Linked DNA regions of Homo sapiens. The protein of the gene in region 1 interacts with the protein of each later gene in a pairwise test. Each region holds a gene or a part of one and is shown on either strand. Other genes may lie near its edges.

Region 1 (3,500 bases):
CCTCCACCTCACCTTCCCAAAATGACCCCGGCCCAGCACCGCCAGGAACTTGAAATCTTCGAGGGTCAGAGGTGACTTCCTCAGAGGGCTGTGGAGAGAGGCCACTGGTGAGAACAAGGACAGCGGGCAGGGGTGGTGGACAGGGGGCCAGGGAGTGGTGTCACCTGCACAGGGCGGGGCCTGGGGTCTCCTGGGTCTCCGAAGGCAGCTCGGGAGCAGTGGATTCCTGGATGGGGGAGCTCTGTGGCGGAGAGAGGAGGCCAGAGTAAGGGGAGTCAGAGATGCCCTCATAACCACAGCAGCCTCCGAGGCCCTGCAAGATCTGCCCCCGACCTCTCTGTCCTCACCTCTCCTCCCACGCAGCCCCTCACTCACTCTCCTCCAGCCACACGCCTGCACCACCATGGCTGGCTAATTTTTGTATTTTTAGTAGAGACGGGGTTTCACCATGTTGGCCAGGCTGGTCTGGAACTCCTGATCTCAGGTGATCCACCCGCCTCGGCCTCCCAAAGTGCCAGGATTACAGGCGTGAGCCACCATGCCCAACCTGAATTTTTTTTTTTAGAGACAGGGTCTTGCTCTGTCTTCCAGGATGGAGTGCAGGGGCGCAGTCATAGCTCAGTGCAGCCTCCAACTCTACCTCCGCCTCCTGAGTAGCTGGGACTAAAGGCATGCACCACCACGTCCAGCTCATTTTTTTTTTTTTTGAGATGGAGTTTCACTCTTGTTGCCCAGGCTGGAGTACAATGGTGTGATCTTCGCTCACTGCAACCTCCGCCTCCCGGATTCAAGTGATTCTCCTACCTCAGCCTCCCAAACAGCTGGGATTACAGGCATGCACCACTACGCCCGGCTAATTTTTTATATTTTTAGTAGAGATGGGGTTTCTCCATGTTGGTCAGGGTGGTCTTCAACTCCCGACCTGAGGTGATCCACCTGCCTCAGCCTCCCAAAGTGCTGGGATTACAGGCGTCAGCCACCGCGCCCGGCCTAATTTTTGTAGAGATGGGGTCTTGTTCTGTTCCTCAGGCTGGTCTCAAACTTCTGGCCTCAAGCGATCTTCTTCGTTCAGCTTCCTGAGTAGCTGGGACTACAAGTGCAAGCCATCATGCCTGGCTTGACAATGTCCATTTTTTATTATTATTTTTTTTATTTTTGAGACTGAGTCTCACTCTGTCGCCCAGGCTGGGGTACAGTGGTGTGATCTCAGCTCACTGCAACCTCCGCCTCCCAGATTCCAGCAATTCTCCTGCCTCAGCCTCCCAAGTAGCTGGGATTACAGGCGTGCGCCACCACGCCCGGCTAATTTTTGTATTTTTAGTAGAGATGGGATTTCACCATGTTAGCCAGGATAGTCTTGATCTCTTGACTCCAAAGTGCTGGGATTACAGGCGTGAGCCACCATGCCCAACCCATTACTTCTACTTTCTAAAAAATTAGATCTATAAAAAATTAGCCAGGTGTGGTGGTGCACGCCTGTAGTCCCAGTTACTTGGGAGGCTGAAGTGAGAGGATCACCTGAGCTCAGGAGGTCGAGGCTGCAGCGAGCCATGACTGCGCCACTGCACTCCACCCTGGATGGCAGAGCGAGACCCCGTTTCAAAAAAAAAAGATAAAAGATAAAATGCATTCAGGCTGGGTGCAGTAGCTCATACCTGTATCTCAGCAATTTGGGAGGCTGCAGAGGGGAGAACACTTGAGGTCAGGAGTTCAAGACCAGCCTGGCCAACATGGTGAAACCCCATCTCTACTAAAACCAAAAATTAGTTGGGCATGATGGCACATGCCTGTAGTCCCAGCTATTAGGGAGGCTGAGGCATGGGCATCTTTGAACCTGAGAGGCGGAGATTGGAGTGAGCTGAGATCACGCCACTGCATTCCAACGCCCATTCTGGGCGACAGAGTGAGACTCTGTCTCAAAATAAATAAATAAATAAAATGCATTCAGTGAGGTGGGCAAGAGGAACAGGTTACATATGCATCCACCCAGGAAACCATCAGCCAGCCTAGGAGTTGGCAAATGCTGGCTGGTGGGCCAGCCTGTTTTTATAGTTTGTAAGAGCTAAGAATGGCTTTCACTATTTTTTTTTTTTTTAAGAGATGCAGTGGCCGGGCATGGTGACTCACACCTATAATCCCAGCACTTTGGGAGGCTGAGGTGGGCAGATCATCTGAGGTCAGGAGTTCAAGACCAGCCTGGCCAACGAGGTGAAACCCCGTCTCTATTAAAAATACAAAAATTAGCTGGGTGTGGTGGGCACACACCTGTAGTCCCAGCTACTCGGGTGGTTGAGGCAGGAGAATCCCTTGAACCTGGGAGGCAGAGGTTGCAGTGAGCCTAGATCACGCCACTGCACTCCAGCCTGGGCAACAGAGTGAGACTCCATCTCAAAAAAAAAAAAAAAAGAGATGGAGTTTTGCCATGTTGTTCAGGCCAGACTCCAACTCCTGGGCTCAAGTCATCCTCCTGCCTCGGCCTCCCAAGTAGCTGGGACCACAGGTAAACTGATTTTTACATTTTTAAATCGTTGGGGGAATAAAAAAAAACAAAAAAAGGAATAATATTTCATTGCCCATGAAAGTTCTACAATGTTCAAACTTCCGCGTGTACTACCAATAAGGTTTTACTGGAATAGAGACACGCTTACAGTGTACATATATCGTCTGTGGCTGCTTTCAAACTACAAAGCAGACAGGGACTGTCTAGCCCACAAAGCCAAAAATATTGACTCTCTGGCCCTTTCTGGAAAACGCGTGCTGACCTCTGACCGAGATCAAGATAAGGAACATTTCCATCACCCGGCAGGTCCCCTTGTGGCTCCCAGCTTGCGGTAACCTCTGCCTAGAGAACAGCACTCTCTCGATCATTCTATCATTGACATGAGTTTTAAATATGCTCGTTTTGCAAAGTGGTACACTGAGGCACAGAGGTGAAGCGCAGAGCCAAGAGGTGGCACGGCAGGGGTGGGAACCCAGGGGGTCCAGCCGCTGAGCTCACAGTTTTATTTATTTTTATTTTTTGAGATGGAGTCGCTCTGTCGCCCAGGCTGGAGCGCAATTGGTATGATCTTGGCTTACTGCAACCTCCGCCTCTCAGGTTCAACTGATCCTCCTGCCCCAGTTGCCCGGGTAGCTGGGATTACAGGTGCCCACCACCGTACCCGGCTAATTCTTGTATTTTTATTAGAGACGGGGTTTCATTGTGTTGGCCAGGCTGGTCTTGAACTCCTGGCCTCAAGTGATCCACCCGCCTCAGCCTCCCAAAGTGCTGGGATTCCAGGTGTGAGCCACTGTGCCCAGCCTGTTTTGTTTTTTGAGATAGTATTTCGCTATGTTGCCCAGGCTGGAGTGCAGTGGCAGGATCATGGCTCACAGTGGCTCACTGTGTTGCCCAGGCTGGTCTCAAACTCCTGGGCTCCAGCAATCCTCCCATGTCAGCCTCCCAGAAGTGCTGAGATTATAGGCATGAGCAGTTTTTTAACCAGGATGGGGATCTGGGC
Region 2 (3,500 bases), on another chromosome or scaffold:
AGTGCCCATCAAGAGTCCTGTAACTCAAGTCATTTCATGTAGCCAGTCCTATTGGATTTTCCAACATGGATGCCCTTTCTTTAAGAACAAAGATTTCTTAAAGGGAGGAGCTGAACTCAGGAGGGATCACAGTAAGAAAATGGAAATGTGACCAGGCGCGGTGGCTCACGCCTGTAATCCCAGCACTTTGGGAGGCCGAGGTGGGCGGATTACCTGAGGTCAGGAGTTCGAGACCAGCCTGGCCAACGTGGCAAAACCTCATCTCTACTAAAAATACAAAAAGTCGGGCATGATGTTGCACGCCTGTAATCCCAGCTACTCAGGAGGCTGAGGCAGGAGAATCGCTTGAACCCAGGAGGTGGATGTTGCAGTGAACCGAGGTTGCGCCATTGCACTCCAGCCTGGGCAACAGAGTAAGACTCTGTCTCAAAAAAAAAATCAAAATAAAAGTAAAAGTAAGAAGATGGAAATTTGCTTAGCTGTGAAAGGAAAGGCGATCTGTCTGATGTCCTGTGTTTGGTGCCTAGGTGGGCTTGGTGCTTGCATTTCCTGCGTTGCAGTGTCAGGATTTTTCAGGGATCAGCCTTGGCACTGGAGACCTTCACATTTTCCATCTGGTTACTATGGCACACATCATACAGATCTTACTTACCTCATGTACAGGTAACTCTTGCCTTTTTGTCAGTTTCTTGAAGGAAATACTTGAGTTTTCTGAGTTTTAAAAAAAGTATTAGAGGAAAAGGTATTTGGATGAGAATAACACATGAATAAGGCTGTTTTTTTCTGTGTATCTTCATATGAAAAGTTTTGAAACATTTCTTTCTCCTCTTAAAATTTCCTAGTAATGTGAATGTTTCTAGTTTTAATTTCATACATTCAGTAATATTTGTGTAGAATAGTAATTAAATCTTTTAGAATCTTATGTTTTAGAATGCCAATTTTGTTTTAACTTACATGTTTGTTAATGCCCACATGAATTCATCATTAAATTACGTTTTGCATTCAAAATTCTTGTTTTTCATACACTTTAAGACTATATTTATTTGATTTTACTTAAAACATGCCAGCTGGCTGTTTGGTTTGATTGAGATCAATACTGTGCTCCCACTTGAGGGATTACAATTTTGCATGTTTTCTAGGAATACTTCATGTTATATGTGAGTTTATGAATATATTTGCATGCTTAATGTCTTCAGTCCTTTTGATAACACTTAATTGGAAAATACAGAGTACTAGTATTTCCTTATCTTTCAGAAGAGAATGGCATGGATCAAGAAAATCCCCCTTGTGAAGAAGAATCAGCAGTTCTTGCTTTGTATAAAACACTTCACCAGTATACGGGAAGGTGAGTTAGTTATCTTTACATAACGCATTTCCCTAAATATTGCTAGATGATGATAGCATGAGAAAGGAATTCGTTTGTTAATTAGGGGAATTTGTTGTCTGTTGACATGTTTTTAAAATAAGACGTGGAGTGATCTGCAGAGCCTTTCTGAACTATTCATATACTAACATAATTGGAAATCTGGGAGAAAGGTGATAATATGCAGAGCTTCCCACATTTATTTGGCTGTGGAACCCTTCATTTGCTCAGGGATCTGGCAGAGACTAGAGGATAGATCAAATGTACTTTGGAAAGTTGATACTCTAAAACTTATGTTGTCTCATTCAGAATGGGAATTTAAAACTGCAAGTTAAATTGGCATAATTTATTTTTAAGGTAATATTCAGTAGTAGCAGGAATAAAATGAAATTATTAGAATTCCATGTATGGTTAGAGTCATGATTTGCTACAAATAGCAATTCAGTAGTTTGCTTAGCTTTCAACAGTATATATGTCAAGAATCTGTAGTCAGGAACCTATAAAAATGTCTGTTTTTTGACTATCCCATTTCTGAGAACCTACATTAACAAAATAATTCAACATATAGAAAAAAAACATATAGGCATATAAAGATGGACACTCCAGCCAGGCACGGTGTCTCACCCCTATAATCCCAGCACTTTGGGAGAATGAGGCTGGCAGATTGCTTGAGCCCAGGCATTTGAGACCAGCCTGGCCAACATGGTGAAACCCTGTCTCTACCAAAAAATACAAAAATTAGCCAGGCATGGTAGCATGTGCCTGTGGTTCTATCTTCTCAGGAGGTTGAGGTAGTCAGATCACCCAGGCAGGTGAAGGCTGCAGTGAGCCATCACACCACTGCACTCCAGACTGGACAAAAGAGTGAGACCCTGTCTCAAAAAGAAAAAGATGTACACTCTGATATTATTTATATTAGCAAATAATTGAAAGCAATCTAAGTGTTTGCAGGGGAATAGTTTGATATAGTGATGAATGTGTTCCAAAATATTATAAATCTATTTAAAATATGGCTCCTAGGAGCTGGGTGCAGTGGCATGTGCCTGTAGTCCCAGCTGCTCAGGAGGCTGAGGTGGGAGGATTGCTGGAGCCCAGTAGTTTGAGTCCAGCCTGGACAACTTTTCATTTTCCACATTTTCTCTTTATGTCACTATGTTACTTTTATAAATTTTAATAACATCACACCTGTAATCCCAGCACTTTGGGAGGCCAAGGCGGGCAGATCACAAGATCAGGAGATCGAGACCATCCTGGCTAACACAGCGAAACCCCGTCTCTACTAAAAATACAAAAAATTAGCCGGGCGTGGTGGCAGGCACCTGTAGTCCCAGCTACTCAGGAGGCTGAGGCAGGAGAATGGCGTGAACCCAGGAGGCAGAGCTTGCAGTGAGCCGAGATTGTGCCACTGCACTCCAGCCTGGGCGACAGAGCGAGACTCCGTCTCAAAAAATTTAATAACAGCATTGGAGGCTGTGTCACCACTTACACCTGGCATCCTATAATAACACACACCCACTTGCCTGTTAACTCACAACTTTTAAGCATACATGCCATCAGTTCCAAATGACAGTCAAGTCTGTTTTCACACTATAAGTACAGTGACCTTTTCTTAGTAGATTTCCCAATAATCTTTTTTTTCTTTTTTAGTGCCTTGAAAGAAATACCATCCGGCTGGCATCTGTGGAGGAGTGTCAGAGCTGGAATCATGCCTTTCCTGAAGTGTTCTGCTTTATTTTTTCATTACTTAAATGGAGTTCCTTCCCCACCCGACATTCAAGGTAATTTATACTTTCTTTCAAAACGTAGGGAGAGTTAGTAATCCTTTACTCCAGCAAATATAAAGATCACTTGCAAAAATGAAAATTGACTAAAAGTTCAAAGAATAGCTTATTGACTATGGTGATGTACACATTTATAGCATAAAATGTATGTTTATGCATATGTCTCCATTTATTTGGATCTCAGTAAATGACTGTTAAACTTCTGTGTAAATGTTTTTACACCTGCAAAGCCCTTCTCCCGTAAAGATCATAGTTTTGCTTTCAGATGTTAAAATGTTCAGTTATGTATTATTCATAAACAAGGTTCCTCAGATTTGAAAAGGTGAAAACTGACAATTTCAAGTGATTTTTAACTT
Region 3 (3,500 bases), on another chromosome or scaffold:
CCTTCTTGGGGGCTACAATCAGAGTGTTCTCTTTCTCCTCCAGACTCTAGAGCACAAGTTATCTGCATCATTCACTCAGAACTTCAACCGGTAATCTATTTTTATGTCACTCATTTCCTTTAACGATATAAATGATTACATTTTGTTTCATATTTTTTAGTATATTTTGTCTAATTAGTCTGAATCTTGTGTTCATCCCATAATGGCTTAGCATGATAAACGATCAATAACTATCCATTAGTGTGATTCTTCCCTTTGTCTTCTTCCTCTTCTAGTCTTTTCTTCTAGGAAGGCTAGGGCTTTTTCTAGTCCATCCCTTCTGAGATGAAGAAAGGTGGAGTCAGCACTGTTTCCTCCTACTGGGAGAACCCTCTGACAGGCAGTGATTGAGGAAATACCATGATTTACACTATTACTAATTATTTTACACTCTTCTGAGATACAGACTGGAGGAACTCCGGTCTATAAAGTAAGTATATTAATCTAGCACTGTCACTCAATCAAAATGTTTATGTATTGTATAGCTCTGTCTGAGCCCTATATAAAAAGGGAAGTCGAAATTTAAAAAAAATTAACATCACCACCCCCAATTTTGTTGTCTTGGAATATAATATTCTGCTTCATTCCTTTTAACAAATATTAATTGAGCACTCATTCATCAGGAGGATCTTGGGGACATATCAGAACAAATAAAAACACTGTCTTCATGGAGCTTATACATTCTTAACAGATATCTTCTGCATCATTTGTACTTCATGTAATAAGACTTATGTTGCAAACACTGTTATTGAATCACATTTTCATTAACAGGCATATGCTATGTATTATATTAGTTACTAATAAATCTAAAGTGTAAAGGGCAAAGAAGTTAAATACTACTGATTTCAACTATTTACCTTTCAGCAAACTAGTTAACAAAAACTGAAAAAACCTGAAGCTATGCAATAAATACACAATAACTCTATAAATAAAATGTGGTCTTCCATGAAGAGATAGGATAGGGAAGGGTAGCGTTGGCTGCTAGCTTACTATCTGTTCTAGAGAATAAGCAGAAATGGAGATAAGCTCAGTTCTGAGAGACAGAAAATAAAGTGTGAAGAGAGAGAAAATATCCCCAATTATAATAAAATGAAGGATAAGACATTATATCTGAAGAGGGATAAGGGCCAGGAAAATCGCAGCATGGAGATATGAAAAGGAGGCAGATGAAGGTAGAACAGGGAAGGGCCTAGAAGTACAAAGTGGATCCACTATAGATTTTCAATAAGGAAACTAACCCCAAAATTTCTTGTTTGGTAGAATCTTAGAGGAGGTAAAGCTTACAGTAATGACAACATCAAATAGACAGTACCTAAAATAGATATGTAAGTAGGAAGATTTCGGTTTTAGATAATAAGCTTTTTTAGCTTTAGAGTTAACACACAAACAAAAAAATTAAACCCTATTTAATTTTTAGCCCTGAATTAAGTCCTATTAATAAAGCACATAGAGTCCAATAGATGTTCAAAGCATATAATCATAGTCAACCCCTTACCTTTAAGGATGTCAGTTGATCTGCCCACATTTCTATTACAGGAACAAGATGCTCAAATCCACAATCTTGAACAAGATCTTTATTAAAATTTTGGACTCCCCCTTTGGTCTGTTTATAAATTATTACTGGAGCTCTTGGATTGTGGATAATTGAATTGATGCTACACAGCACCTTTAAAAAAACATAGTGTATATAGTCAAAATATTTATCCTATGCCTACAAAGTTATATATTTTAAAGGAGTGCTTTATGTCTATATATATTATATACACATATTTCATTAAATATACAAAGAAAATTATCATAAGGAATTGGCTCATGCAATTATGAAGACTGACAAGTCCCAAGATCTGCAGTGAGTAAGCGAAGACCCAGAAAAGGTAATGGGTATTTGCAGTCCAAATGCAGGCAGACTGAGACCCCTGCAAGTGCTAATGTTTCAGTTTGAGTCTGAAGGCAAGAAAAAAACCAGTGTCCCATCTTGAAAGCAGTCAGGGAGGAGGAGCTCCCTCTTATTCAGCCTTTTGTTCTACTCAGGGCTTTGAATCATTGGATGAGGCCCACCCCATTAGGAAAGGCAGTCTGATTTACTAAAGTCTACTGATTCGGATGTCAATCTCATCCAGAAGCACCTTCCCAGACACATCCAGAATAATGTTTAACCAAATATCGGGCATCCTATGCCGCAGTAAAGTTGAAACAAAATTAACTATTACAAACACTACCTAGGTTCAAAAATTGTTAGTATTTTGCCATATTTGCTCACTATCTATATTTTTAGGTGAACCATTTGAAGAAACTCTTCACCCTCAAATAATAAAGCATGCATCTTTTAAAAGTAGGCATATTCTCCTACAAACTCACAAGAACATTATCAGACTATTTAAGGAAATTAACAGCAATCCCCAGGCTGAGTGTGGTGGCTCATGCCTGTAATCCCAGCACTTTGGGAGGTTGAGGCAGGAGGATCACTTGAGCCCAGGAATTCAAGGCTGCAGTGAGCTATGATAATGCACTTCAGCCTGGGCAACAGAGCAAGACCCTGTCTCCAAAAATAATATCATTGATGCCTGGATTGAATTTTAGGTATCTTAATATATTAAGATAGTATACTATTTGACTATAACCCTCTCCCCATAAGTGATGGGTTCTACCTTACATATCATCCGAGGAAAAAAAGGGAGACCTCAAAAAGCATGTTTAAAGAGAGAAGAATAAAGCCATTTCCTATTACCACCATCAAGTTCAGCCTATTTAATAAAAAGTTTCACAATATAAAGATAGCATTTTGCTCTTGAATCTTTGTCCCTGGTCATACTTCAAGATATAACTAATAGGCCTCCTGGTAATATGACTTAAGATGTTTATTACTTCAGATGTTTATTTAGAAGCTTTTTAAGTCCAAATTAGTATAATTCAATATTTCACTTCAAATTGATGTATGTATATTTGTTTTATATATTTATTTGACAGAGTCTCACTCTGCAGCCTAAGATGGAGTGCAGTGGTGTGAACGGAGCTCACTGCAGCGTTGAATTCCTGGGCTCAAGTGATCTTCCCATGTCAACCTCTCAAGTGCTAGGACTACAGGCACAAGCCACCATGCCCAGCTAATTAAATTTTTTTTTTTCTAGAGATGTGGTCTCACTATATTGCCCAGGCTGGTCTCAAACTCCTGCCCTCTAGCAATCCTCCTGCCTCGGTCACCCAAAGTGTTAAGATTACAGGCATGAGCCACCATACCCGGCTTGAATTCCCCTTTTAAAGGACAAAGCCTCTCAAATTGAGTCTCAGAAACAAAATGAAATCCAGTTATATACTGGTACAAGAAAGTCTAAAACAAAACAGTTTTCAGAAAGGTGCTTGGTTCCCATTTACAATAGCAATAAAAGTTATAAAATACCTAGGAAATAACAAGGTATTTCCTAACAAGAAATATGCAAGAGCTAAATTTAAAAATACACAAC
Region 4 (4,013 bases), on another chromosome or scaffold:
CTCAGTAGGCAAGGTGATAAGAATAGGGGTTGTCTTTGTTTACTGTATACCGCCCACGCTTGGCACACTGGGAGCTCTGTAAATATTTCTTGACTTATTCATTGAGAGAGTTCTGCCACCTGCCCTCATGCTTCCCTTTGATTTTTCCACGCCCAATCTGGCATTTACTAGCTCAACTAACATCTATTAAGGCCTCTCTTGCCTGGCACTGCCCCGCCCATAAGCTGAAAGAGAGCACAGGAAAGGCTAGCACATGCACAGACGACTAGGCCAGGGAAGACTGCAAGGGTTTGGGCCTGGTGGAGACTGGACGGCTTCCCGGTGGTGGGGCACCCGAATTGGTTCTGAAAGGAACCAAGCAGAGGTCACCAGCAAGAGCAAAGGTGCAGAGTTGTGAAACTGCCAAGCTATTAGCAGCTTGCAGTGACGGTCTTCCAGGGACTCTGGAAGGTCTTCCACCCTTTTCCGATTGGCTGCCCTTCCTGGTTCCTCCTCAAAGCCCGCCACCTCTTTGTCTCTCCCAGAGCATGCCGGGCTGCCAGTCAGGGTCCCTTGCTCTTTTGTGTGCCCCTACTCCTCCAGGTTTCTGTGTAGCAAGTCTCCTCGGCTCACCCACCCCGCGCGCCTCCACATACGCCTTTCCTCGACCCCTCACGAGCACACGCCCGTCCCGCGTGCCCGCTCCTCTCTGCCTCCCGCCCCGATCCTACGCTCCCCCTCCTCCCTGGACCCCGCCCCCTGGAGCGCGCCCGCTTCTCTCTGCCACGCTCCCCTTCTTTCATTCCCTCTCCTCTCTGCCCGTTGCCCCCTCGTGCGCGCTCTCCCTCCTGCACACCGCCTCATCTCTGCCGCAGGCCCGACTCCTGAACGCCCCCTCCTCTCTGGCCCCCTCCCCTGGCGCGCGCCCCCTTCCGCACGACCCCTTCTCTCTGCCGGGCGCCCCGCGCCTGCACGCCCCCTCCTCTCTGCCGCGCCCCCTCTACTCTGCGGCGGGCTCCTACTCCTGCACGCCCCCTCCACTCTGCCGCGCCCCCTCTACTCTGCCGCGCCCCCTCTACTCTGCCGCCTGCTCCTACTCCTGCACGCCCTCTCCTCTCTGCTGCGCGTTCCCCCTTCGCTGCCCACCGCGTGCCCTCTGCTCACCTATCCGCGCGCCCCTTCCGCTTTGCGGCGCCTACACTGGCTCCTGAGGCGCGAGCTCTCGTTGCCTGGCAACGGGACGCCGCTCCTGGGTGGCGAGCAGGCGCGTGTGTAGGGGTGAGCGCACCGGAAAGGCCCGAACTGTTTTTGGGATTTGTTCCCCTAGCTTCGCTGGGTCCGGCGGGCAGAGGCGGTTCTGACCGTTGGGCCTTGGGCGTCGAGCAGGACTCACCTGAGGCGGAGAGAGGCCGCTTCGCGCCTGGGGCTCCCGAAAGCGGCCAGCTGTCCTCCTGCTCCCCCTGAGCGGGGAGCGCTGCGTCTCCTGCGGGCTGCGGGAGACCCTTCCAGACTCCCGGGTGGGAAAACCACACTGAGCGCCCCGGGAGGTTGCCAGATACAATACTGTATCTGGCACCCCTGCCCGGGTGCCCCCGCCCAGTTGGCTGGCTGGCTGGCTAGCTGTCTCCCAGGTGTGGGTAAGGAATCTCCTTCCATCTCTGTGGCACCTTCTTCACGCTGGAGGCAGCTGTTTCTGTGGGAAAGGGCTTTCTTATGTTGAGCCAAGATGCCTATTGGTGTATGTGAAAAATAACATTGCTTACCACAGGAGAGATGGGTATTATCCTCGTTTCACAGACAGGAACATGCTAAGGGAGTTGGCAGGCCTTGCCTGGGTCCCACTGATATGCCCAGAAATCCGAGACAGAGCCTCCCCTGACCTGGCCCCGCTGGTAGGCCAGAAGTTTTCTCTTTAGGGATAATGGTCCCCTTCCTCCCTTCCCACATTTTATCCTTCTGGAGCAGCAACAGGAGTCTGTGCACCTTTTTTTTTTTTTTTTTTTAACTTCACTTCAAATGACTTTGAGATGTCTGTGTAGCGTTTTGGTCTTTCAGGTATATCCTACTGAAGAAATACAGTGAAGATACTGTGTTCCAAAGTCAGTTGTAATAATTCTTTTCTCTGTATGGTTGAGACACCAATATCAACCTCATTTGGAATTAGGTTCATTTGTGCCAGTTTGTTTTCCGTTTTTAGAGTTTTTATGACTATGTTTACATATACACACATACACATTCCTTTCCCCACTGCTGTTGCTAATACAAAAGATGACAGACCATATACAATTTCAGCACCTCGTTTTCTTTATTCTGTGTCTTAGAGATCACTCTCTAGTTTCTTCATTCTCTTGTACATCTGCATAATAATCCATTGTGTTGCTCTTATTAATCCCCAATTTGATGAACATTTAGATGGTGCTTCAGTGTGACTATTGTAAATAATGCTGCAAATAACTGTGTGCATATGCCATTTCATATTTTTGCAACTATATCTTTGAGATAGGATCCAAGAAGCAAGATTGATGAGTCAAAGGGTGAATGCATATGTGATTTTCTAGATGTTGTCAAATTCTCCTCCATAGGAGTTATACCATTTTGCCCTCCCACCACTGTCATATGGCATATGCACATAGTTATGGCATAAAATTTCAGAGACACTGACATCCTGGGGTTCATCCATAGAATAAAAATTGGGGGTTATGGACGGACCCCAGGATGTCACTGTCTCTGAAATTTTATGCAAAATGCTAGATGCATTTGTCCAGGGACAAGTTTAGACACAGTGGCATTCTATCCCCTGTAATTGCCATGCTCATTCCTATATCAGGGCCTTTCCTCATACCTAGAAGACTCTTCTCTTCTTTGTCGTGTTAATTTTACTGTTTTTTTTTTTCAGTAAATGTAAGCTTAGCTCAAATGTCACCCCCAAAGAAGCTTTTTTTTTACTTTCCTGACTTGATCAGCTACTCCTCTTGTCTGGTCTCATAGTACTTATTTTAACTGCAATTTCATATTTATTGATTTAAATATTTATCTTCCTTTCTCATCTATAAGCTCCATGAAGGCAGAGACTGTTTTTGTTTTAGTTTGCGCTGCTGTAGCAAATTACCAACACTGGGTGGCTTAAAAACAATACACATTTATTTCTCACCATTCTGGAGGCTGGGAAGTCTAAAATCAAGGCATTGGCATTTCTGGTGTCTGGTGAGGACCCTCTGGCTGGTGTGCAGGTGGCTGTCTTCTAGTTTTATTCTCAGATGGCAGAGAGTGAGAGCACGCTCTCCCATCTCTTTTTATAAGGGCATTAATCCCATGCATGACGGCTCCACACTAATGATCTAATCACTTCCCAAAGGCTCCTAATACCATCACATTGGGAGTTAGGATTTCAACATATGGATTTTTGGGGGACACAGATATTCAATTCACAATAGTTTTGTATTCCCAGTACCTATCATGGTGCCTGACCTATAATAGGTATTCTTTTTTTTTTTTTTTTTTTTGAGACGAAGTTTCACTCTTGTTGCCCAGGCTGGAGTGCAATGGCACAATCTCAGCTCACTGCAACCTCTGCCTCCCGGGTTCAAGTGATTCTCCTGCCTCAGCCTTCCAAGTAGCTGGGATTACAGGTATGTGCCACCACGCCCAGATAATTTTGTATTTTTAGTAGAGACAGCATTTCACTATTGTGGCCAGGCTGGTCTCGAACTCCTGACCTCAGGTGATCCACCCACCTCAGCCTCCCAAAGTGCTAGGATTACAGGTGTGAGCCACTGTGCCCGGCAAATATTCATTATACATTTGTTTAACAATTGATTACATTTCATCAGATTCTCAGGAAAAAATATATATATATATATTTTTTTTTATATATGAGACAGAGTCTCACTCTGTCGCCCAGGCTGGAGTGCAGTGGCACGATCTTGGCTCACTGCAAGCTCCGCCTCCCAGGTTCACCCCATTCTCCTGCCTCAGCCTCCCAAGTAGCTGGGACTACAGGCGCCCGCCACCACGCCCAGCTAATTTGTTTGTAT

Evidence for each region. The genes of interacting proteins can lie anywhere in the genome.
Region 2: the proteins of PKN1 (region 1) and UBR2 interact in binary tests that used the Homo sapiens proteins (3 or more experiments, as listed by UniProt).
Region 3: the proteins of PKN1 (region 1) and CEP70 interact in binary tests that used the Homo sapiens proteins (3 or more experiments, as listed by UniProt).
Region 4: the proteins of PKN1 (region 1) and DYDC1 interact in binary tests that used the Homo sapiens proteins (3 or more experiments, as listed by UniProt).

The regions. Positions count from the first base shown.
Region 1 is NC_000019.10:14,464,306-14,467,805, reverse strand, and holds part of PKN1 (serine/threonine-protein kinase N1), read right to left. Parts: intron 242-3,500; coding exon 165-241; intron 89-164; coding exon 13-88; intron 1-12. UniProt on the Homo sapiens protein: PKC-related serine/threonine-protein kinase involved in various processes such as regulation of the intermediate filaments of the actin cytoskeleton, cell migration, tumor cell invasion and transcription regulation.
Region 2 is NC_000006.12:42,675,529-42,679,028, forward strand, and holds part of UBR2 (E3 ubiquitin-protein ligase UBR2), read left to right. Parts: intron 1-527; coding exon 528-663; intron 664-1,254; coding exon 1,255-1,345; intron 1,346-3,010; coding exon 3,011-3,141; intron 3,142-3,500. UniProt on the Homo sapiens protein: E3 ubiquitin-protein ligase which is a component of the N-end rule pathway.
Region 3 is NC_000003.12:138,503,761-138,507,260, forward strand, and holds part of CEP70 (centrosomal protein of 70 kDa), read right to left. Parts: intron 1,706-3,500; coding exon 1,535-1,705; intron 118-1,534; coding exon of another isoform or gene 76-117; exon of another isoform or gene 1-75.
Region 4 is NC_000010.11:80,353,956-80,357,968, reverse strand, and holds the start of DYDC1 (DPY30 domain-containing protein 1), read left to right. Parts: upstream 1-1,213; 5' UTR 1,214-1,257; exon of another isoform or gene 1,258-1,709; intron 1,710-3,485; exon of another isoform or gene 3,486-3,608; intron 3,609-4,013. UniProt on the Homo sapiens protein: Functions as part of axonemal radial spoke complexes that play an important part in the motility of sperm and cilia. Plays a crucial role during acrosome biogenesis.